Linked DNA regions of Homo sapiens. The protein of the gene in region 1 purifies or fractionates together with the protein of each later gene. This does not show direct contact. Each region holds a gene or a part of one and is shown in the gene's direction. Other genes may lie near its edges. The genes, in order: CAMKK2, YTHDF3, SMC1A, PRKAG1, OBSL1, FLNC and IQGAP2.

Region 1 (3,500 bases):
TGGCCTGAGAGGAAGGCCAGCAGAGATCAGCTCCTGAACCCTTCCATGTTCCAGACAAGGGAAGCGGAGTACAGAAAGGAAGGGAGGACGTGATCTTTGCGGAACAATTAGCTTGAGCCACGCTGTGTACTAGGGACTGCCATAGAGAAGATCAACTCTATAGCCACCCTCTTAGGTAGGTCTGGCACCATTTCACAGATGAGAAAATCAAGGCTCAAGGTCCTCTGGGATCTGTATCCTTTCCTGATGTACCTTCTCTTCCTGAGGTCTTAGGCCTCCCTTGGCTCCCCGCCCCGCCTTTTTTTTTTTTTTTTTTAAAGACAGGGTCTTGCTCTGTCTCTCAGGCTGGAGTGCAGTAGCATGATCTCAGCTCACCGCAACCTCTGCCTCCTGGGTTCAGGCGATTGTCGTGCCTCAACCTTCCAAGTAGCTGGAATTACAGGCACGTCCCATCACGCCTGGCTAATTTTTGTATTTTTAGTGGAGACGAGGTTTCACCATGTAGGCCAGGCTGGTCTCGAACTCCTGACCTCAGGTGATCCGCCCGCCTCAGTCTCCGAAAGTGCTGGGATTACAGGCATGAGCCATCGCTCCCAACTTTGGCTCCTTGTACTGGCAAATTATGCTCGTTTTCTGATGGAGTGGAGTCCACCTTCCCTGGCAGGTTATGGGATGGAAAGCATTTCCGAATAGTTTTGGGCTCTGAGAAATAAGATTTAGAATTATTATTTGTTTTCTTCCCTGATTGGACCCCTTTCTCAACAAAACCAAGATAATAATAATAAAAAAGACATCTTTAAAATGATGTGAGTTCTGTTAGATTTTGTAGGGAAGACCCCTGGCTGCTGCTTTCCCCGTTGGGGACGTTAGTGATCCAAATGGGAAAGGGATTATTTTAGCTGCCAGTGTTTCGGTTTCAGTCATGTTTGTAGTATTGCCACTGAAGTTTTTTTTTTTCAATTATGAAACATTTTAAGCATAGAGAAAAGCCAAAGTTTTGCTTTGTTTTTTTAAACTGGCTCGCTTTTTGGAAAGCTGGAAGGAGGCCCAGGAGGTGACGGAAACGGGGCAGAGTGGGGCGCCCTGGCTCTGCAGGCTCGACCCTTCACCCAGCCCGCTCTTTTGGTTGGGGTGGGGTGGGGGGATTGGTGCTGGTGACAGGCTATACCCTGGGGAACTGAGAAATACTGGGACTTGGTTCCTGTCCCAGGTGAGTGGTCTCAGAGCCTTTTGGAAAAGATGAACAATTCTGACATCCTTTCCCTTTTGAAAAGGAATGAAAGAAAATGAGAAGATTCTGTAGTGCCCCCACCCCCACCCCACCCCATCCTGAAAGCTGCTGAGCAACTATTTTTATGTTGCCTCTTTTTATCCTGGTGGCTTCTGTAAATAGTTGAGAGATGGCAGTTGCAGAGATAAAAATGCTAATCCCAACCTGGAAAAGAGAGGGATGGTGGTCCTCGGAGGAAAGGGGGGTGGGAGTCAGTGGGGAGGCCAAGGTGTTGCCCCTCTGCCCACGTGGCTTAGGCATGAGGCAGGAACCCAGCGGGTGGGGTAGGAGCATTGTGGGTGGTGCCTGAGAGAAGCTTCTGTTAGAGAAGTTTAAATGGGGAACCAGTGTTTTGCGGGGGCCAGGGTGCAGAAGGGAGAGCACACTCCCTTTTTCATTTTTGAAATGTGCTTTGGGGTATTGCCTTCAAGGCTTCTGGCAGAGAAATATTTTATTCGGTTCATCCTGGACAGTTCTGCCCTCTAGGTCCAGGTGTGGGGACGTTGGGCCCCGCAGAGCTGCAGAGCTGGCTCCCTGCACTCTTCTTGTCCCTCAGCTGAGGAGGCTTGCAGCTAGATTTAGCATGATGTCCAAAAGGTGGGGAGGAGGGAGGGAGAGGGGCCGTGGGTAGCCCAGGCACCGATGCCTGTGGGTTTCGAGCTGGCCCTCTCCATCTCTGATTTGCCAAGAGCATGCTGGGTAGAAGTCTTTTTCTTGTTCATTACAAACTGAAATTCCAGTTGTTTTCCAACCTCTTCCTTTGGTTCAGTGAAAGATTGAGAGGGATGCAGTGGGGGAAGAGGAAGGAAGGAAGATGGTTTCTACACTTTATTTCCAAATACCTCCCTCCTCTAAACACATACCCAAACTCACCCACACATTCGTAAGCTCCTCACACTTCAAGGCTGGGGCCACCCATGCACACCTGGTTTTATTTTTATTTATATTTTTTAAATTTAAAAATTTTCGAGACAGAGCCTTTCTCTGTTGCACAGGCTGGAATGCAATGGTGCAATCATAGCTCAGTACAGCCCCAACCTCCTGGCCTCAAGGGATCCTCTCACCTCAGCCTCTGACGGAGCTGGGACCACAGGTGTGCAGCACCACACTTGGCTAATGTAAACATTTTTTTGTGTGGTGATGGGGTCTTGCTGTGTTGCCCAAGCTGGTCTCGAATCCTGGCCTCAAGCGATCTTCCTGCTTCGGCCTCCCAAAGCACTAGCATTATAGGCGTGAGCCACCACTGTACCTGGCCCACAGCTGGCTTTAGATGTCTGACTGCGTGACTGGGGCCATTCTTTCAGTGATATTTCATTACTGACTAAGTAATAGCTGCCTAAGAATTCTTAAGACAGTTGGCCCTGGCAAGCAGCAAGACAGGGGAACTGCTTACTCTGTGAGTATCCAGGGCCTCAAGGGTCACTGGGCTGCAGGGCAGGCCACCTGGATCTCCTCCTGGCCCAACTGCGAGCCTGCTGGGCTGCCTGGATGAGGTCATCTCAACTTCTCTGAGTCTCGGTGACTCCATCTGCAGCCTCTGTTGCGCTGATTGCAAAAGCCATGTGAGAATGTGCTCTTATGACACATGGAAGCAAGGATGTGAAATGATATGCATACGCTATTTTTAATTTTGTAAAATGTGATGCATATGGACAAGGGCTAGAGGGGAAGATGAAGAGTTAGCACGGCAGGATTAGAGATTTAAGAGATTTCGTTTTAAAATAAATTGAAACCAGCTAGGCACAGTGGCTCATGCCTATAATCCCAGCACTTTGGGAGGCTGAGGCAGGTGGATCACTTGAGCCCAGGAGTTTGAGAACAGCCTGGGCAACATGGCAAAACCCCATCTCTACCAAAAATACAAAAAATTAGCCAAGTGTGGTGGTGTATGCCTGTAGTCCCAGATACTTGGGAGGTAAGGTGGGAGGATCACCTGAGCCCAGGAGTTCGAGGCTGCAGTGAACTATGATTGCACCACTGCATTCCAGCCTGGGCAATAGAGTGAGACCCTGTCCCCAACCGCCCCGCCCCCCAAAAAAAGGAAGCCAACTGAGGGTCGTGAATTCAGTAACTGCCAAAGTTCTTTCTTGGCAATAGCTTCTATATAGTGAGCATTCACACTTGTGCCCTCCTGAAGCACTCAGAAGCTGGATGATTGTGAGCAAGTCAGCCAGGCTCTCTGTGCCTCAGTTTCCCCACTGGTGGAACAGGGATAATAGCAGGACCTATT
Region 2 (3,500 bases), on another chromosome or scaffold:
TATGTGTGTATTTGAGAAAAGCTTTTCTGCCTTAGCTTGTTCCCAGCTCGTAAAATTGTTTTACAATTCTGTTTACTTTCATGAAGTTATTTTTCTTGAACTGCAACCTCAGTATTCTAAATATGAGTAATCTTGAATTCTGAACTTAGCAAGCTTATGAAAAATAGTATGTCCTTGAGAAGTTGGTGTCAGTTAAAGTTTTGAACACGTAATCCTTTTCAGTCAACTTACTATAATTTCAGAGATCCTGTTTCTTTTCTGAATTGTCTTTAGTTGACAGCTTTAGCCTAACACCTAGTTTTAGTGTCTTTGATTTTCTATATATCCTTAATTACTTAATTCATTACAGAAGCCAAAAGGAATTCTAAATAATTGTCTTTGATATGGCAAAAATGTTTTTTGTAGAATAAGTAATAATTCAAGGTTTACTTGTTTTATAAGTTTGAATTCTTTTTTAATTAAGTCTGTCCCTGTGTTAAATATCAGAACTCTTTATTATCCTTGGCAAGAGTAGTACCAAAGGATAGTAGAAATTTAAGGATAATTATTTGCCTATTGGTTCATAATTTAACACTTCGTATTTTATTTTTTTATTAAGTAGAATTTTTGCTTATTGGAATAAAGGTGTGCAGTACTTTTATTTGGGAGTACTATGGTTGGAAGTGTCAGATGCCATACTTACAGTCTTAGGCCTTACTGCCTCCTTTCTCCTCTAAGTTTATAAATAGCAAATTCATGGAACAGGATTTATCTTTTTCCTCCTCTCCGCTCTCTTCCAACGGAGAGACGTATGCATTGTTTTATACAACTGTAATTTAAAATAATTAGGTTAAATTTGGCTAAGTTTTAATTTTCGAAAAGTAGTGGAAAATGCCTTATATTTTGGCAATATTCTGTTGTATTCTCTCCTCGTCCTCCCGAGAAATGATTTCAAAGCACTTTACTATCATTATTTTAGGCTTCATTTTATCAATCCTCACAACATCCTTGTAAGGAGATAGCGGGTATATGGTATTGTCGCTGTTTTTGTAGGTGGGGAAACATGATGCACAGATCTGTTGACTTTCCTAACTTGATGTAGTCAGGACCAGAGCAAAGAATCACCTGGCTCCTAAGGCCCATGTTCTATCTTGATTTGACTCTGTTTCATAGAGCAGAGGAAACAGGCGAAGAATCATGTAAGTCATCTGTTCTTTTTACCCCTGAAGAAATTTTACAGACTATGGAACTAGCTTGGATTTCATTTCTATTTAATGGTTTTCAGACTCCAAGACATTAGCTTGTCATTAAGTAAATATTCAAAAACGAAAGTCTTTAAGATAGTTTTCTTTAAGATACACTTCCAAAACTTAAGGGCTAGTTTAATGCAAATTGCTTCTCGGTATATGTGAAGTACTTTTAATTAAACATTTTTTAAAGTAGATTGACTTTTTGTACTATATTTTAAGACTTTATAGACATTTATGCATCATTTAAAAATGACCGTAGACTGTATTTATAATAGTATATGGGTTGTTCTCAGGCCTAGCCTCTTAGAAGAGAAATAATAGAACAAAAAAAATAAGAATAACAGGATTATATTTATATATATATACAGATAAATTTTAAGTAAGTACTTTTTCCTTTTTTTTTTTTTAAATAGAGGCAGAGTCTCACTCTGTACCCCAGGCTGGAGTGCAGTGGCATAATCATAGCTCAGTGTAACCTGGAATGCCTTGGCTCAAGTGATCCTCCTTAGACTCCTGAGTAACTAGGACTATAGGCACATGCCACCACTCCTGGCTAATTTCTAAACATTTTTCGTAAAGGTGGGATCTTGCTGTGTTGCCCAGGCTGGTCTTGAGCTCCTGGCCTGGCACTTTTTGTATTTGTATGAACTAGATTTTCGAGAACCTAGTGGATATGAGAGATAGTTAGTCATAATTTTTAAGTTGTTAGCTGTTTCAAATACTGACTAACATGTATGAGTGTAATAGTGAAGAATTTTTTTTCAAGAAGTAATAGACCATGCATACTTACCTTTGATTTAGGAGCAGTAAAGCCAGTGTCAGAGGAGAACAGGTATGTCAGAATCTCTTGGACTGAAATGAATAACCCAGCCTTATAATGGCACTAGAAGTAACCTAAGGCACCCTCTTTATTTTGGTTTCTAGTGGCTATTACATATTTAAATTCCATGGAGCATATTTAGCTCAATCCTAGTTCTGATGCAGTCCTTATCAGACATAGTTAAATTATGTTAGTGGAGCCAGGATCAAGTTGACCTTCAGGTTGCTTCTTGTGGCCTCTGAGGGGCAGTGTGGTGTAGTAAGAAGTCTACTTTGAATGCTTTACACAGTAACATCATATCTTTGATCTTTGCCACTCATTGGATGGCAAAGATTTAAGGGATTTTGTATATCTTTGCTCCCAAGCCACTGTTAACTCATAATATTACATTTTAGGTGCTCTACACTCATGGGAAAATTTAAGGATAATAAAAATGTTATATTACAGAGGAATACGCAATTTAAACCCGTCACCCTCCTAACTTCATAAAATTTGGTGATGTTGTACCTTTGAGCAGTAAATCTTTAGATACTGAGTTCTTTTTGTTTCTAATTTGTAGACATCCATCGGAAACTTTCAACTTTATCTTCACTAGTATAGAATAGTATATTTACATAGTGCCACCTCATCAAGTATTAGCTTAGTAACACTTCTGTTTAAATGGTTCTAAAGTCATATTAGTCCTATTTGGATCTTGTAATATTTAATGTGATTACATTTAAGATTATTGAACACTGTCATTTAATAATCAGATGAGATGAGGTAGGTACTATTCATACATAACCTTCTGAAACAGCGAACAGTCAAAGGTTAGAGAGTTTAAATCCCTAACTGGAGATCATCTCCTCAGTGCTGGACTTGAGATTCAAATTCGGGACCTTACTTCTGAGTCTGCTCAAAAGCACTCTGAAACAGCATCCAGAGAATAACAACTTTAGAGTGTTTATGGAGATGACCTTTGAACAAAATTATTCTCTGACTTGTTTCTCATGTATTGCAAGGATAATTATGGCTATCTTTTGTGTCTTAATTTTGTTTGTAGTTTCATGTGAAAGTCTTCATTCTGGGGGGCTTAGAATTAAAGCCCTCTTTATTTAGATATTTCATAATTATAAGTCTATTCATTGTGATATTGTTTCAAGTTAATTTTAGCCTAAACTTTACTGGAGACATTTAAGACATTTACTATAACAAATTAGATCGAAAATAGTTATTTCATTCTTTATTATACTAAATAATTTAGAGATTTAAACAAAGGTAGAGAACATTCAGAAATCTTTTTTATTGCCTACAACGCTACTTGAAATAGTTATTTTACATTCAAATATAGCATTAGGGAACTCTTTCCAACATTCTTATGTAACAATTTACTCACTACAGTGTTGAGATTGGGATATTTACTTAAAGTTTTTGGTAAGGGGAAGTGTATATATGGCTTGTGTTTATGTAAT
Region 3 (3,500 bases), on another chromosome or scaffold:
AGTTTTGTATTTTTTAGTAGAGACAGGGTTTCACCATATTGGTCAGGCTGGTCTTGAACTCCTGACCTCAGGTGATCCACCTGCCTCAGCCTCCCAAAGTGCTGGGATTACAGGCGTGAGCCACCATGCCCGGCCCACTTTATATTATTTTAACATCGTTGAGTTTTGTGTCTTGTTTGTTTCACCTATTGTGGGCTTTTGTCCATGTCATTAAAGGTTGTAAAACTATCCATTCTGTGAATATACCATTTCTTTAGATTGGGTTCTAGCTTCTTTTTTTAAACTATTCTTTCCTCTTTTTTTTTTTTTTTCACTATTTTTTTAAAGAGAGTCTTGTTCTGTCACCCAGGCTGGAGTGCAGTGGTGTCATCATAGCTCATGCAGCTTTGAACTCTTGAGCTCAAGCGATCCTCCCTCCTCAGCCTTCTGAGTAGCTGAGACTACAGGCGCATGCCACTATGCCCAGCTAATTTTTTTTTTTTTTTTTTGAGATGGAGTCTCGCTCTGTCGCCCAGGCTAGAGTGCAGTGGCACGATCTCGGCTCACTGCAACCTCCGCCTCCCAGGTTCAAGGAATTCTCCTGCCTCAGCCTCCCGAGTAGCTCATGCCCAGCTAATTTTTAAAGTTTTTGTAGAGACTGGGTTTTGCCTTGTTGTCCAAGCTGGTTTCAAACTCCTGGCCTCAAGCGATCTTCCTGCCTCGGCATCCCAAAGTGCTGGGATTACAGGTGTGAGTCACTACGCTTATCCTGGGTTCTAGCTTCTGGCTGCTATATAGTAACTGCAAAAGGACTGTTTTTCCTAAGCCTTTGACCCAGAGGTTTGGTTGTGCTCAGTCTTTATGGGGACAGAGGAGTAGTCTCTCTTCCCATTAGTCTGAGTACTGAGTGATTAGGGGACATTTTTGTTCATCTCAATATCTTTATTCCTTTTCCTCTCCTCTTCATCCTGACTTTCCCTCTACTGCCTCGTCCCTCTTCCCTTAGGTAAGTCAAATCTCATGGATGCCATCAGCTTTGTGCTAGGTGAAAAAACCAGCAACCTGCGGGTAAAGACCCTGCGGGACCTGATCCATGGAGCTCCTGTGGGCAAGCCAGCTGCCAACCGGGCCTTTGTCAGCATGGTCTACTCTGAGGAGGGTGCTGAGGACCGTACCTTTGCCCGTGTCATTGTAGGTGGGTGAGGCTGGCCAGAAAGCTCTCCTTGGGTCCTGGGAGGTGGCTAGACTAGTTGATTGGGACAGGAAGGAGGCCTGACCCTTGCCAACTCATGCATTGTCTTGTAGGAGGTTCTTCTGAGTACAAGATCAACAACAAAGTGGTCCAACTACATGAGTACAGTGAGGAATTAGAGAAGTTGGGCATTCTCATCAAAGCTCGTAACTTCCTCGTTTTCCAGGTGGGCGTTTTTAACAGTTATTGGCTATCTGGTTTTTGCCAGACCATGTCCCATCCCCACTCTGTCTGCTCCATCTCAGGCTTTATCATCTCTCCCTTGAACTAATGTAGCACCTTGTTCACTGAGCTTCCCAACTTCAGTCTGGCCCCTGAGCCAGGTTCATCTTATGAGGACACACATTTGTTTTGTTTCCCCTCCCTTTTTTCCTTAAAACATTTCAGTGATTCCGTATTGCCTTACAATGGTGGTTCTTAAACTGTAGTCTCCAGACCAGCAGTATCAGCATTACCTGGTAACATGTTAGAAAATGCACATTCTCAGGCCCTATCCTAGACTTCCTGACTTGGAAGAAACTGTGGAGTGGGGCACAGCAGTTTGTGTTTTACCAAGCTCTCCAGTTTATTATGATGTCGGCCGAAATTTGAGAACTATTGCCTTAGGATGAGATCCAAACTCCTAAGCCTATCATTTAGGAAACACCATCATCAAAATCCAAATACCATCTGCATGTTCTTCTCCAGCCTTGCACTCCAGCCTACTTAAACCATTTATGGTTCTGCAAATTCACCTGCTTTCTTTGGCCTACAGGTCTTTGCATATTACTTTTCCTCTTCATAGAATAACTTTTTCTCTGTTTTTTTTGTTTGTTTGTTTTTTGTTCTTGTTTTTTTTTTTTTTTTTTGAGACGGAGTTTCGCTTGTCACCTAGGCTGGAGTGCAGTGGCACGACCTTGGCTCACTGCAACCTCCGTCTCCAGGGTTCAAGTGATTCTCCTGCCTCAGCCTCCCAAGTAGCTGGGACTACAGGCGCCCGCCGCCATGCCTGGCTAATTTTTGTATTTTGGGTAGAGATGGAGTTTTACCATTTTGGCTAGGCTGGTCTTGAACTCCTGATCTCAGGTGATCTGCCTGCCTCAGCCTCCCAAAGTGCTGGGATTACAGGTGTGAGCCACCGCGCCCGGCCACCTTTTTTCTTTTATTTTCTTGGTTAGTTTCCCTCCAGCTTCCAAACTCAGCACAGATGTCACCTTTGGGAAGCCTTCTGAGATAGATATCCCTATCAGTCTCCTACCCCCAAGCTTCATTTTGTCCTTTTCCTATGCTGCTTCTGTTACTGCACATAACACTTTGTTGTCTTTGTCCCTTTGGCTCCCTGTGCTCCTCAGAGGGCAAGGAATTTGTCCTCAAAGCCCAGTGTGAAATGTGGCAGCAGGGGCATGGGAGAGAAAGTTGGTAACTTTTTCTGGGTGAAGGAGTGGAAATGGGTAAGGTGAACTGGGTTGGCTGGGGTCTGAAGTGGAAGAGTGTTTCGACCTTTACTAGGGTGCTGTGGAATCTATTGCCATGAAGAACCCCAAAGAGAGGACAGCTCTATTTGAAGAGATTAGTCGTTCTGGGGAGCTGGCGCAGGAGTATGACAAGCGAAAGAAGGAAATGGTGAAGGCTGAAGAGGACACACAGTTTAATTACCATCGCAAGAAAAATATTGCGGCTGAACGCAAGGAAGCAAAGCAGGAGAAAGAAGAGGTAGGTGGCCAAGCTACCTCTTGGCTCTGAGGGACCAGGATGGAGCCAGTGCCTTATCGATGCACCCCTGCCACCATTCCCCTGTTTGCACAGGCTGACCGGTACCAGCGCCTGAAGGATGAGGTAGTACGGGCTCAGGTACAGCTGCAGCTCTTTAAGCTTTACCATAATGAAGTGGAAATTGAGAAGCTCAACAAGGAACTGGCCTCAAAGAACAAGGAGATCGAGAAGGACAAGAAGCGTATGGACAAGGTGGAGGATGAACTGAAGGAGAAGAAGAAGGAGCTGGGCAAAATGATGCGGGAGCAGCAGCAGATTGAGAAGGAGATCAAGTAAGAGGCAGACCTGGGCCTGCAACTTGTGGGAAACCAAGAGGCCGTGCTGTTTATTAGGGTTCCTCTGAGCCCGGAGTTCAGTACCTATACTCATTTCTCTGTTATTCTCCTAACTTGCTTTTGTAAGAACCAGGCACATTTCTTGACTTGCAGTTTAGACAAATAGAATATTTAAGCACTCAGGCCCTGGGTAGACAGGTGCTCAGATGAGGGAGAACTCAAAAGGGGTGGTGGCCTTGCCA
Region 4 (3,500 bases), about 72 Mb from region 1:
GTGAAACCCCGTCTCTACTAAAAATACAAAAAAAAACTTAGCTGGGCGTGGTGGCAGGCATCTGTAGTCCCAGCTACTTGGGAGGCTGAGGCAGGAGAATCGCTTGAACCCCGGAGGCGGAGATTACAGTGAGCCAAGATCGCATCACTGCACTCCAGCCTGGGAGACACAGCGAGACTCTGCCCACCCGCCCAAAAAAAAAGTCACATATGCAGTTGTGTTTGACTCTCTTATGTTGGTATCTGTATCTCTAGTTAGCTCTATGTTTCTTTCCTCCCTCTGTAACTTAGTCTTGGGCATATCTGTTCATATCAGTGTGCATCATTCTTTGAGAATTAAAAAACAAAACAACTGTGAATTATATGCAAAACCCTGTGCTTGGTGGTATGGGAGATACAAAGTATAAGATAGTTCTAGGTTTCCAGGAATTTATAATCTGTTTGGATAGATAATGAACAAAATAACTGTAGCACAGTACAGTATATATCATATGATGGGTAAATTCTACAGAAGTAGCTGTTTTTGTGCCTTTGTGTAGATCTTTGTGAGACTCTGATATATCATGTGTCTATCTTTATCACAGCCCTCTCTCCCACTTATAAGTGATGAGGCTGTTGTTCTGATAGTCTTGCCAAAATGGCAGGCCAAGCTGACAGTCTTATGCAGTCCAGTGGGAAGAGGGAGATTATCCCCCTTACTCCCTGCACTCTCCCCTAGCCCATTAAGGGAGAAAAGTTTAGGGCTGTCTTAAACTTCCCTGGTTTAGGAAGTTTGTCAGCCAACCTCCCAGGTTGAAGTTTTTAATGTCATGTTACTACAGAAGCTATGGGGATGAAGTATGGTTTTATTTTGGAGATATCACCCAGAGAAAATGGAGCCAAGACTGTTGATGCTAGCAGATGAAAATTGTTGTGATCCCTTCTGGGTTCCTAAATAACAATGGCATTTCCAAATGTTCCCACTTGAGGGAGCACAGAAATGGTTCTAAGTTTTGTCTAGTCAAAGCACTCTCTAATCTCAGACTATCTTGGGAAGGGAAACTTGGAAAACCAGCATCCCCTGGCTATAGCAGCCTTTGACTCACAAGGGTGCTGAGTGGACTCAAGTTCCCAGTTTCAGTACATTCGTGTTCCTTATCCACCTCTCAGTCATTCAGGTTTTGACTGGCTGACAGTCAGCTACTGGGATCCTCCCCAGTTGTGGCTCTCTCTCTGCCATGGAGCTAGACAATGGTGGAACCAGTGTCTGTGGTTCTAGTGCCTACAACTATGCCTAGTGAGTGTCTGTGTTTGGGGAAGACAATGCTGTCTCTCTGGCTTCCATGTTTTAATAAAGTAGATCTGTGAGAATCTTGTAGGGGTTAGCCCTAAGCTCAGATCTTTAGTCTTAGCTTTTAGGACCTAGTGTTTCATTAGGCAGTATAGTGTACAAGAACATGAGCTTTGCAGATAATGCTCGTTCAGCTCAGAAGTGGATAGAAGCATTTCTGGAAGGCACAATATTGTAGCAGTATTGGTTTCTTCTCTTCTGTGATTCCAGAGAGGTAGAATTTCATCAGAATGGAGTAAATACATTCAAAAATTTTATAAAAATGGCCGGGCGTGGTGGCTCATGCCTGTAATCCCAGCACTTTGTGAGGCTGAGGCGGGCAGATCAGTTGAGGTCAGGAGTTTGAGACCAGCCTGGCCAACATGGTAAAACCCCATCTCTGTTATAAATATGAAAATTAGGTGGGTGTGGTGGTGCACGCCTGTAATTCCAGCTCTCAGGAGGCTGAGGCACGGGAATTGCTTGAACCCAGGAGGAGGCAGTTGCAGTGAGCCAAGATCACGCCACTGCACTCCAGCCTGGGCAACAGAGCAAGACTCTGCCTCAAAACAAAACAAACAAAAAAATTTACAAAAATGAACACTGCCAAGATAAACCCAACCAAACTCTTCATCAGTTATAAGAAATTATTTTGTTAGGTATACGTAGTTTTTTAAAAATTTGTTTTTTCAAGTATGTTATTTATTAAAATTTTGATGTAAACAAAAGCAAACCACAAGCTCTGGAACCAGAAGATAGGTGTTTGAATGCCTACTCCACCCCTTATCAGCCATGTGACCTTGGGCAAGTTGCTTAATGTCTCTTGACCCTCAGAGACAATCTGTGAAAATAAGGCTAATAATAGTATTTACCTCAGGGTTGTTATGAAGATTAAATGAGATCATATTTCTGAAGAGCCTTATAAGGCTGGGTGCAGTAACTCGTGCCTGTAATCGTAGTGCTTTGAGAGGCCAAGGAGGGCAATCACTTGAGCCCAGGAGTTCAAGACCAGCCTGGGCAACATGGCAAAACTCCATCTCTACTAAAAATACAAAAATTAGCTGGGTATAGTGGCTTGCACCTGTAGTCCCAGCTACTCAGGAGGCTGAGGTGAGAGAGGATCACCTGACCCCGAGGAGGTCAAGGCTGAAGTGAGCTGTGATCACACCACTGCACTGCAGCCTGGGTGACAGAGCGAGACCTTGTCTCAAAAACAAAAAAAAAAGGGTTTGGCGGGGGCAGTGGCTTTATAGTGCTTTAAAGAAAGTCATTATTTGTTCACCAGCCCTTCCCCTAATGTTGCTAGGCTAAAATGGATGGAACCAGGTTAAGCTGAATCTGTTTTCTTATCTCTCCAGGTCATTTCTTCAGATAGCTCCCCAGCTGTGGAAAATGAGCATCCTCAAGGTAAGTTTACTGAAGAAAGGAAACTGGGCATGAAAACAATAGCCTGACCCTAACAATGTCTTCAACAATGCTTTTGAATCTCTCCCCTGGAAAAATCAAAGCAGGGCCAGATAATGTGCCAAACCACAAAAATCAGTGACAGTAGTTTGGCAAGATCACCCAGGAATAAATCTTGGGCAGAGTGGGGATGATTAATATCTTCAATTATCAAACCACTTGAGAGAAACATCTGAGGTACAGGCAAAACTTCCATAGGCAACTCTGGGCTGGCTACCATGTTTTAGAAGTCCTGGGTATTTTCTGCATAGTCCAGAAACAGTGCTACCAGGATTTTATCACCCAGCAAGCTCACTAAAGCCACTGAATGTACACCAAAAATTATGCAAAGGGCTTGGTGCAGTGGCTTACACCTGTAATCCCAGCACTTTGGGAGGCCGAGGCAGGTGGATCACTTGAGCTCAGGAGTTTGAGACCAGCCTGACCAACCTGGTGAAACCCTGTCTCTACTAAAAATACAAAATCAGCCAGGTGTGGTGGCGCATGCCTGTAATCCCAGCTACTTGGGAGGCTGAAGCACAATTGCCTGAACCAGGGAGGCAGAAATTGCAGTGAGCCAAGATCGTGCCATTGCACTCCAGCCTGGGCAACAAGAGTGAAACTTCGTCTCAGAAAAAAAAAAAAAAGAAAGAAAAAAATTAGGAAAAGGCTCTTAGAACTAATCTAGTAATAGAAGCACTAAACCTCTAAAATCCAGAGCACAGGGAAGACAGTTCCAATGCTGGCCA
Region 5 (3,500 bases), on another chromosome or scaffold:
GATCTTAGAGCATGGGTTGTTGAGGGCCAGTCTAGGGACCCTGGGGCTGGGAGCCACCACCCTGGCCAGGCAACAGGAAGTGCTTTCAAAGCTGATACTGGAGCTAAGTGGGGTGGGGTGTGGGGGAATATTCAAAGCGGGAGAAGCACAGGACAACTGTGGAAGTGACGGAGGTTCAGTGCCGGAGACCTCGGGGTGACGGCTCACAGCGCCCAGCCCAGTGTGTGTCTGGGGCTGGGGGTCCATAGGGCTAGGCAGCTCTGGGGGGCACAGAACCCCAGTGGCTGCACTGGAGCCCCCATCCTACTGCGGCCACAGTCCTGTCCTCTCCCAGCCCTGCCCTGAAAGTCACGCCCCATGCAGAGCTGTTTAGGGCCCCCCTGCTCCTTGCACCCCAGCTAATGCACTCTACACACACAAGCCCACAATGCCTAAGAGGCCTTCTGCACATATTCTGCCCTGTCGTAATCATCTTCACCCTCTCCCACCCAGCCATGGCCAGACAGAATGGCCACAGCCACACAAACTCCAGCCCATGCTCAGGCTCCCCACAAACACCAGTCTCTTCACAGGGAAGTTCACACAAACACCACCTCTGCTCTAGGCCAGAGCGAATCAAGTCTGACACCAAGCTGAGGTCCCGGGGCTGGGCAGCCACCCGGTCCCATCACTGCACCCTGTCCTCACCCCACTGCCCTCATCACCTTCCCCACTCCTCAGGCAGCTGCATTCTGGTCTCTCCTGGCCTTGCTCGGCCCCAGAGGACCAGCCTGCATCCCCCAGACCCTTAGAGCAAGCAAGCCCATGGGGGAGGTGGGTTGTGTGGCTCAAGGCAGGAGTCTCCGTGGAGGCTGGGGGGCTGAGTGGGAGCTTGTGGTTACCTCGGCCCATGCATGCCCCTATAAACCACCCCCAGCCCCCACCCCCCCAACCCTGGCCCCTGATTGGGAAGCTAGCAGTTCCTCAGCCCAGCCACCAGGGGGCCAGAGGCTAATGGAGCAGTAGTCGCCCCAAAACTTGAAGATTCTGGGGGGACCTGGGGGCAGCAGGGGTGTGGGCAGGCCTGGGCTCCATGCGCTGGTCACCTCTAATATTGACATGGTTCCCTTTCTGCAGAGGAGTGACCAGAACTTGGAGATGAGCTCCCAGAATCAGCATTTAGCACCCCTGGGGAACTCTCAGACAGACGTTGAATGCAAAAAGCATTACTGAGTTCCTGCAAGCCTTGGCTTGGAATTCCTGCCACTACCTGTGGGGTCTGAGCCTCCCTTTAACAGAGGGTATTTCCTCCTCCTGCCCCAGAGTGGGTGTAGCCAGCTGTGACCTTAAGGAAGTTGTATAATCACTCTGTGCCCAGTCCCTTATATGGAAAATGGGGACAAAACACTACCTTCCTCTTAGGATTGCCGTGAGAGTTAAATGTTTCAAGTGCTTGGGACTGTTCCTGGACCTTAGGAAGTGTCATATCAATGTTTGCTATTGTAGATCCACCATCCCTTATCCATGGTTCCAAAATTCCAAAACTCTCAAAATCAAAAGGCTTTTTGTAAGTTTTGTATTCCAAGTCATTTCAGGAAAACCTGAGCTTGATTGCTCTGAAGCTATTTCTATGCTTTAATTATCCTGCTGAGGGTGAATATAGCTATAGCTGTATATCTATAAGATATGAGTGTCTTATAGATATATGCTTGTATCTGTAAGATTCTGTATCTTTCAATCTATCCTGCTTAGGGTGAATGTAGTATGTGTTATACCACAGACATGTTAACGTGACCGATGAAGGGGGAGGCTCCCGTGGGGGCTGAGGAAGGTATGTGATAGATGAGAAACGCATCATTTCTGGAATCCAAAGCATTCTGGATTCTGTAACACCCTCTGGCCCCAGGGATTTCAGAGAACAAACTGTGGACCTATTATTGCTTATTATTATTTTACTTATTATTCTCATTATTATGTGGGTGATAGGGACTTCATGCTGCCGAATGGCTCCAGAGAGGCTGACGGTGAGCTTGTGACAGGCTGTGGTTGTCCCCACCCTGCAGAACCCCCAGTGCGGATCATATACCCTCGCGATGAGGTGACCTTGATCGCCGTGACCTTGGAGTGTGTGGTGCTGATGTGTGAACTGTCTCGGGAGGATGCCCCTGTGCGCTGGTACAAGGATGGGCTGGAAGTGGAGGAGAGCGAGGCCCTGGTGCTGGAGAGGGATGGGCCACGCTGCCGCCTGGTGCTACCTGCTGCTCAGCCCGAGGACGGGGGCGAGTTTGTATGTGATGCTGGAGATGACTCGGCCTTCTTCACTGTCACTGTCACAGGTGGGCAGTCTCTGCAGCACAGAGAGGAGGTAGAGAGGTAGGGGGCTAAGGGACAGACACCCACCTAGCCCCACCTCCCCCACCCCATCCCCAGCCTTCCCCTTATCCAGCTTCCTCATGTTTGGCCATCAGAATCCTGCTTAGCCACATCAGGTCAGGACCAGAGGCCTGGTGGGAGGGTGCCCAGCAATTAGAACCATTCGTTCATTCATCCATTCGTTCAATACTCATTGAGCAACTACTATGTGCTTGGCACTGTTTTAGATGCTGGGGATACAGCAGTGAACCAATAAGACTAAACCTCTTGTCTTCACAGAGTTTAAACTCTGGTGAGGGTGGACAGACAAAAAATAAAAGAGATGGTTTGTCAGGTGGTAACAAGTGCATCAGAGGCAAGGCAGGGAAAGGGGATAGGAAGTGGGGATGGGTGTGGAGTGGGGTGTGTAGATCTGGGTGTGAGTCTAGATCTGCCTCTTTCTGTCTGTGTGACCTTAGGCAAGTCAGTTTCTTCTAAAGAGGCCTCAGGTCCTCAGCCATGAAGTGCAGCCAGCAGCTGTGCACCTCTTGAGGGTGGTCAGAGTAACTGATTGAAAAAACACAGGGTTCTTAGGACAGTGCCTGGCACACAGCAGCTGCTCCATGGACTGCAGCTGGCACTGTTCTCAAGAGCTGTGCTGCCAGTGGGGAGGGCTGAGGATCTGGCGGGTGAGGCAGGAGAGGCCTGCTGGCCAAGCCTATGTGCCCCTCTCCATGCCCACCCACCAGCCCCACCAGAGAGGATTGTGCACCCGGCAGCCCGCTCCCTGGATCTGCATTTTGGGGCTCCAGGGCGCGTGGAGCTGCGCTGTGAGGTGGCCCCAGCTGGGTCTCAGGTGCGCTGGTACAAGGACGGGCTGGAAGTGGAGGCATCAGATGCCCTGCAGCTGGGTGCCGAGGGGCCCACCCGCACCCTGACCCTGCCCCACGCCCAGCCTGAGGACGCCGGGGAGTATGTGTGTGAGACCCGGCATGAGGCCATCACCTTCAATGTCATCCTGGCTGGTGGGTGCTCCTGGCCAACCCAGGGCAGGGAGGCAAGGGCAAGCATGGGATGACACCTTCCTCTCTTCTCCAGAGCCTCCAGTGCAGTTCCTTGCTCTAGAGACAACTCCAAGCCCGCTCTGTGTGGCCCCTGGGGAGCCAGTG
Region 6 (2,683 bases), on another chromosome or scaffold:
CCTGCAGGTGAGGCCAGCTCTCAGGACATGACTGCACAGGTGACCAGCCCATCGGGCAAGGTGGAAGCCGCAGAGATCGTCGAGGGCGAGGACAGCGCCTACAGCGTGCGCTTTGTGCCCCAGGAAATGGGGCCCCATACGGTCGCTGTCAAGTACCGTGGCCAGCACGTGCCCGGCAGCCCCTTTCAGTTCACTGTGGGGCCGCTGGGTGAAGGTGGTGCCCACAAGGTGCGGGCCGGAGGCACAGGGCTGGAGCGAGGTGTGGCCGGCGTGCCAGGTAAGGGGCAGGTGGCCAGGAGTGGGGATGAAGTCAGGGCAGCCAGTGTGAGGGGCGATGATGCTGAAGTCCACTACCTTGCCTGTCCCCAGCCGAGTTCAGCATCTGGACCCGGGAGGCTGGCGCTGGGGGCCTGTCCATTGCTGTGGAGGGTCCTAGCAAAGCGGAGATTGCATTTGAGGATCGCAAAGATGGCTCCTGCGGCGTCTCCTATGTCGTCCAGGAACCAGGTGGGCGTCCACACTGGCAGTGGGGCTGGGCCTGCCTGACCTTCCAGACTGGGTTTCTGCCCACTGGCCAGGCAGGAGATGCTTGGGGCCACAGAACTCCCCTCCCCGGAGCCCCCTGCTCTTCCTCTGCCCCGTCTCCCTCTACCCCACACCCTCAGAAACATGTGTCTGCCTCCAGATCTGAGCGCTGACCACAGAGCCTTTCCTGGGATAAGGCCAGGGTGGGGAGGCTCCCGCCCTGCCAACCTCCATCCCGGAACCTGTGCTGACTGGTCTCTCTCCCCAGGTGACTATGAGGTCTCCATCAAGTTCAATGATGAGCACATCCCAGACAGCCCCTTTGTGGTGCCTGTGGCCTCCCTCTCGGATGACGCTCGCCGTCTCACTGTCACCAGCCTCCAGGTTTGTGCCCAGGGTGGGGGTGGAGGGTTTCTGCTATCTGAGAGATGGGCAGGAGTTGAGGACAGCAGGTCCATGGGGCCAGGGATTTAGCAGTGACCTTGGAAGGGCCAGTTAGGAGTCCCTTCTCATAAGGCACGAGGCAGGGCCCTTGGGGACGGTGGGCTCCCACCCTGGGGGCTTGCCCGTGCACTCAGGCATGCCACGCCTCGTTCTGCCTTTCTCAGGGTGTGTCTGCCTGTCCTACTGCCACCTGCCATTTCTTGTTACAGTTTGTTCCACCTTCTGTTGTAAGAATGCTAGATGACAACATTTATAAGAATGAGAGCATAAAATCTATACAAACTAAGAGTAAACCAGTTTGCACAGAGGGTGTGAGAGGCTCCTCTAAAGGGAATGCCTATGGGCTGCAGAGCCTGGGCTGCATCCTCTTCAGGCCGCTGGGGGCCTGGCTTGCTTTCTCTTGCTGCTGACTTCTAGAGATGTGGTGTGTTCCTTTCATTCTGTCACAGCGGACATGTGCAAGGAAGGCTTTCAGCAAGTCACACTGAAACATGCAAACCAGGGGGCCAGGTGTCCAGGGGACACATTGTAAAGGAGCTTCTGCATAAGGCGCACAGAATGGGCTTCACCCCACCTCCTTCTCCCACGCGCCTCCTGGCTGCCCCTCAGGGTGGTCACATTGGCCCATCCAGAGTCCTTGTGCATCTCCTCCTCCCACTCCTGAACTGGGCTCCCCGATGCAGGCTCCAATCCCTCCCCCAGAGCCCTTCTGTGCTTCTTCTGGTCCTCCCTGTTGGTCCACCTTCTCCAGGAAGCTCTCCCAGGCCAGGCCAGTGAAACTCAGCTTCCTACCTCAGAGCTCTCTGGCACCCCCAGCCCACACAGCCCATCAGGCACTTGCCCTCCGCCCTCAGCCTGCTTCACACAGAGTGGGGCCCTTCCTTCCTCAGCCAGGACAGGGCACATCGTCTGTCATCTCCCACACACCAAGCACAGCTAGGATAGCAGGTGCACACATAGGGTTGCATACCGGACCCTGGCTCCTCCTGCTCCCAGGCTGGGCTGGCAGGCAGGGGCCAGGCTGGGCATGGGGTGGCAGCAGCCTTTGGGCTGGGCTTACAGTGAGCACCGTGTGGGGCTTCAGAGAAGACTGCTCCAGCCCCGGCCTCCCAGGAGTCTGAGCATCCTCCGTGGCCTTTGCAGGAGACGGGGCTCAAGGTGAACCAGCCAGCGTCCTTTGCCGTGCAGCTGAACGGTGCCCGGGGCGTGATTGATGCCCGGGTGCACACACCCTCGGGGGCTGTGGAGGAGTGCTACGTCTCTGAGCTGGACAGTGGTGAGCTGGCCCTGCCCCTGCCAACTCCCTTCCGGGCTGGGGCCTTCTGGGGAGGGGAAGGATGGAGGCTAAGCCACCAACCCTTTATCCACAGACAAGCACACCATCCGCTTCATCCCCCACGAGAATGGCGTCCACTCCATCGATGTCAAGTTCAACGGTGCCCACATCCCTGGAAGTCCCTTCAAGATCCGCGTTGGGGAGCAGAGCCAGGCTGGGGACCCAGGCTTGGTGTCAGCCTACGGTCCTGGGCTCGAGGGAGGCACTACCGGTGAGTGCCTGGAGCTGGGGAACAGGGTGACTTCTGGGGGTGCTTGGCCACTAGTCTGGTGCTGCTTTGCTCCAGAGGTAGGGGCCCTGCTTCCTAAGCCAGGAGTCCCCACAGAGGCTGTCCAGGGAGCTGGGGCCCAGTCCCTCTTGGGCCACAAGCCCTTCCTG
Region 7 (3,500 bases), on another chromosome or scaffold:
ACGTACTTTTCTTTACAGTTACCAGGCAAGTAACTTTAAGGTGTAAGGTTTAACAATCCAGGTTGGATTGGCTTATTCTGGGTGGGTGGTTGTAGATTTAAGCAACCCTAGCTTCTTGTTTCCTGTAAAAGGATGTCTGTGAAATAAAGTGTACACAGAGAATTATGTAATTATGTGGGTGGTTGTTACAGTACTGTTTGTAATAATAAAAAGTCAGGAAAAGTCAAAATATTTAGCTTTGAGGGATTTGTTAAATAAATGTTTGTATAGCACATAATGGAATAAGTATTTGGAATCGTGGTATAGATATACATTTGTTGGCACAGAAAAAAATGTTCAGGGTATATATTCCAGTTGGAGTTAGGTGCAATAACCCATTTTTCTGGGAAAAGAATGCTCATTACATACGCCACACAGGATCTGTATAGAATGTCGATTACACAAATTGCATTACACCCATCAATATGCGAGGCCCACAGACATACATGCACAGAGGAGATTGGACAGTTATGCACTAAGGTATGAAAATTGGTTGTCCCAAACACCGCATATTCTCACTCATAGGTGGGAATTGAACACATGGACACAGGAAGGGGAACATCACACTCTGGGGACTGTTGTGGGATTGGGGGAGGGGGGAGGGATAGCTTTAGGAGATATACCTAATGCTAAATGACGAGTTAATGGGTGCAGTACACCAGCATGGCACATGTATACATATGTAACTAACCTGCACATTGTGCACATGTACCCTAAAACTTAAAGTATAATAATAATAAAATAAAAAATAATTAATTTAAAAAAAAGAAAAGAAAATTGGTTGTCCTCTCTGGTATTGTTTTAGATTATATGTGATTTTATTTTTCTGTAATGAACATTTGCTTTTTATAATTAAAAGAAATTTAGCTGAGTCTAAATTACCTGGGTCTGCCTCTTATCTTGCCAGAAGAGACCAGAGGGAAGGCCTCAAGTCCTTCCTGTTCCAAGTTGCAGAAGGTACCCTCTGTGAAGGTGGAGCCTCCCCTCATTTAGTAAACATTTTGTTACTGGAGTCAGTGGCAAAGTCCAATTCACTATACAAAGCTTGACTATAGAACCAACTTGGCAGCAAAATTAATGCTTGTACCTAAGCCTCCAGTTAATTTAAAGCCTTTGTGTTTTCAGCAAGTTGCCTTATGATGTGACCACAGAACAAGCTCTAACATACCCAGAAGTGAAAAATAAACTGGAGGCTTCCATTGAGAACCTGAGAAGGGTCACCGACAAAGTCCTGAATTCTATCATTTCTTCCCTTGATCTACTGCCGTAAGTTGTACTTGCAGCAAGTTTAACATTCTTTCCTGGAACGTTCTTGGAATACGATGTAAAATAAGCCCCTGTAGTGAAGACAGCAGTTTTCCCTTATATTGTGTTTACTATTTTAAAAGATTGCCTACATTTACCTTTTAAATTCCTGACTGTTCTCTAAAGAAGGGGCAATACTTCAGTAGCAAACACAGCTCAGTTATTATCATCAGTGGAAGTCCTGTGATTCCATTACCATCTCATCTTATGTTTAATTTTTAGAAAAACTACTCAGCTGAAGTTGACTGGAACAATTGCTGTGTGTTTTTTCCTCACTCCGCCTTTTTTCCATTATTTTCTTTTGTCATCTGTTTTATATGTAGTTATGGATTGAGGTATATAGCCAAAGTACTGAAGAATTCGATCCATGAGAAATTCCCCGATGCAACAGAAGATGAGCTATTAAAGGTAGATTTTCAAGGGTAATCTCACCATAGCTTCTCCTGGGGGTATGAATCAAAATTACCAACATATAACTTTGTAAGATTATTCCCCATGTATGATTATTTATAATAAGCTGCAGGTCTTCTGTTTCTAATGACTCTCAAGATAATTGATTAAGCTGAGGTTAATTTGGAGATCCTAGACATTATTGAAATTCTTTGCATTAGAGCATTTTGGGGGCAATGAGCATTTTTTCATCAAAAATAACTTTGCAAATTATGCTATTAATAATGTGTGATTATATTCATTGCCTTTATTAAACTCCTTGTTAGGATTTACATCAGAAAATGATCTGCTTTCTCTTGGGAAATGTAGGAGAATATATATCTTTAAAAAAAAAAAGAAAACTAAAACTCTTGAGTTTTCTCTCTTAAAAATGGTCATGCACTTCTGCGTCACTCCAGATTGTTGGAAACCTCCTGTACTATCGGTACATGAATCCAGCCATTGTAGCTCCAGATGGCTTTGATATCATCGACATGACAGCTGGAGGTCAGATAAATTCTGACCAAAGGAGAAACTTAGGATCAGTGGCCAAGGTTCTTCAGCACGCAGCCTCCAACAAGCTGTTTGAAGGAGAAAATGAGCATCTCTCATCTATGAACAATTATTTATCAGAGACGTATCAGGAATTCAGGTGAGAGGGGCCCTTAGTTTTGGAGAAACGTGCAAGAATGGTAGGCAAGAATAATATGTGCTCTGTGCCCAGAGCTAGAGTGGGCATGGAGGACAGGAACCCCAGGTGGTTACAAGCATTTCTTCTACCAGCCACTGGGGAAAGAGGAGAGAGGGAAGTGCAGGCAAGATTGCCTCTGTCTGGCGATCCTATCGCACCCCCACCACAGCACTCCTATTACACTGAGTCTTTTCTGTGTGTATTATTTCTGCTGCTGACAAAATGGCATACTTGTTCTTCCTTGTATGCTACAGGCTTCCAGTACCTAGAATTTAAAAATCAAAATAGCAGATTTCTGCTTCTTTCAACTTAAGAAGAGAGGAATCATTTTTAAAAAGTTTTCCGGTGAGGAAGAACTTGCTTATCTACGTCAGATACATTTGACCCTTGATTAACACAGGTTTGAACTGCTCGGGTCTATTTATATATGGATTTTTTCAACCAAAGACAGAGAGAAAATACAGTATTCATGGGATGCAGAACCCACATATACAAACAGATGACTTTTCACATACATGGGTTCCACAAGGCCAATTTCAAACTTGAGTATGCACAAATTTTGGTGTGTATGGGGGTCCTGGAACCAATCCCCCAAACATACCAAGGAACGACTGTAGTAGGAAATGGAATACTTGATTTTGAAAGGTTAGGAAAACCCAGATTTTATATTTGTTGATGATTGTGTATGTGAATATGTTCTGTTCTATTCTCAAGCCTTTCTTAATGACACATGTAAGAAGATTTAATTCTATTGATTTTGTGTTTCCAAATTATATCACTAATCATTAACAAGAAAGGCATGAGTCTGGTAGTCAGATTCACTCCTCCTGGAGCTCTGAGGAAACACTTTCCTCTTGTCATGTTTGTTCTCATGTCTGCCATTTAATCAACAGGCCATAGAAGTGTAACATCAGTTTGGCCTCTTTTAATCCTCACTTGGAAACTCATTTCTCATTCCTCGGTCTCCCTTGGAGTGAGTGACTTACTAGAAAACAAAGGTAGTTCATGATTATTCATTTCTATTTAGAATTTGTGG

The links.
Region 2: the proteins of CAMKK2 (region 1) and YTHDF3 purify together in Homo sapiens (affinity purification with mass spectrometry; one large-scale study listed by BioGRID and IntAct). This does not show direct contact.
Region 3: the proteins of CAMKK2 (region 1) and SMC1A purify together in Homo sapiens (affinity purification with mass spectrometry; one large-scale study listed by BioGRID and IntAct). This does not show direct contact.
Region 4: the proteins of CAMKK2 (region 1) and PRKAG1 purify together in Homo sapiens (affinity purification with mass spectrometry; 2 studies listed by BioGRID and IntAct, with this or other methods). This does not show direct contact.
Region 5: the proteins of CAMKK2 (region 1) and OBSL1 purify together in Homo sapiens (affinity purification with mass spectrometry; 4 studies listed by BioGRID and IntAct, with this or other methods). This does not show direct contact.
Region 6: the proteins of CAMKK2 (region 1) and FLNC purify together in Homo sapiens (affinity purification with mass spectrometry; one large-scale study listed by BioGRID and IntAct). This does not show direct contact.
Region 7: the proteins of CAMKK2 (region 1) and IQGAP2 purify together in Homo sapiens (affinity purification with mass spectrometry; one large-scale study listed by BioGRID and IntAct). This does not show direct contact.

What each region holds. Positions count from the first base shown.
Region 1 is NC_000012.12:121,286,710-121,290,209, reverse strand, and holds part of CAMKK2 (calcium/calmodulin-dependent protein kinase kinase 2), read left to right. Parts: intron 1-3,500. UniProt on the Homo sapiens protein: Calcium/calmodulin-dependent protein kinase belonging to a proposed calcium-triggered signaling cascade involved in a number of cellular processes. Isoform 1, isoform 2 and isoform 3 phosphorylate CAMK1 and CAMK4. Isoform 3 phosphorylates CAMK1D.
Region 2 is NC_000008.11:63,171,621-63,175,120, forward strand, and holds part of YTHDF3 (YTH domain-containing family protein 3), read left to right. Parts: intron 1-1,032; exon of another isoform or gene 1,033-1,120; coding exon of another isoform or gene 1,121-1,178; intron 1,179-2,030; exon of another isoform or gene 2,031-2,061; intron 2,062-3,500. UniProt on the Homo sapiens protein: Specifically recognizes and binds N6-methyladenosine (m6A)-containing RNAs, and regulates their stability. M6A is a modification present at internal sites of mRNAs and some non-coding RNAs and plays a role in mRNA stability and processing.
Region 3 is NC_000023.11:53,412,655-53,416,154, reverse strand, and holds part of SMC1A (structural maintenance of chromosomes protein 1A), read left to right. Parts: intron 1-985; coding exon 986-1,174; intron 1,175-1,284; coding exon 1,285-1,397; intron 1,398-2,719; coding exon 2,720-2,923; intron 2,924-3,016; coding exon 3,017-3,255; intron 3,256-3,500. UniProt on the Homo sapiens protein: Involved in chromosome cohesion during cell cycle and in DNA repair. Central component of cohesin complex. The cohesin complex is required for the cohesion of sister chromatids after DNA replication.
Region 4 is NC_000012.12:49,012,277-49,015,776, reverse strand, and holds part of PRKAG1 (5'-AMP-activated protein kinase subunit gamma-1), read left to right. Parts: intron 1-2,666; coding exon 2,667-2,715; intron 2,716-3,500. UniProt on the Homo sapiens protein: AMP/ATP-binding subunit of AMP-activated protein kinase (AMPK), an energy sensor protein kinase that plays a key role in regulating cellular energy metabolism.
Region 5 is NC_000002.12:219,558,040-219,561,539, reverse strand, and holds part of OBSL1 (obscurin-like protein 1 isoform 1 precursor), read left to right. Parts: intron 1-2,042; coding exon 2,043-2,315; intron 2,316-3,080; coding exon 3,081-3,356; intron 3,357-3,429; coding exon 3,430-3,500. UniProt on the Homo sapiens protein: Core component of the 3M complex, a complex required to regulate microtubule dynamics and genome integrity. It is unclear how the 3M complex regulates microtubules, it could act by controlling the level of a microtubule stabilizer.
Region 6 is NC_000007.14:128,854,406-128,857,088, forward strand, and holds part of FLNC (filamin-C), read left to right. Parts: intron 1-7; coding exon 8-277; intron 278-369; coding exon 370-507; intron 508-793; coding exon 794-909; intron 910-2,112; coding exon 2,113-2,245; intron 2,246-2,339; coding exon 2,340-2,516; intron 2,517-2,683.
Region 7 is NC_000005.10:76,672,285-76,675,784, forward strand, and holds part of IQGAP2 (ras GTPase-activating-like protein IQGAP2), read left to right. Parts: intron 1-1,164; coding exon 1,165-1,305; intron 1,306-1,667; coding exon 1,668-1,752; intron 1,753-2,192; coding exon 2,193-2,425; intron 2,426-3,500. UniProt on the Homo sapiens protein: Binds to activated CDC42 and RAC1 but does not seem to stimulate their GTPase activity. Associates with calmodulin.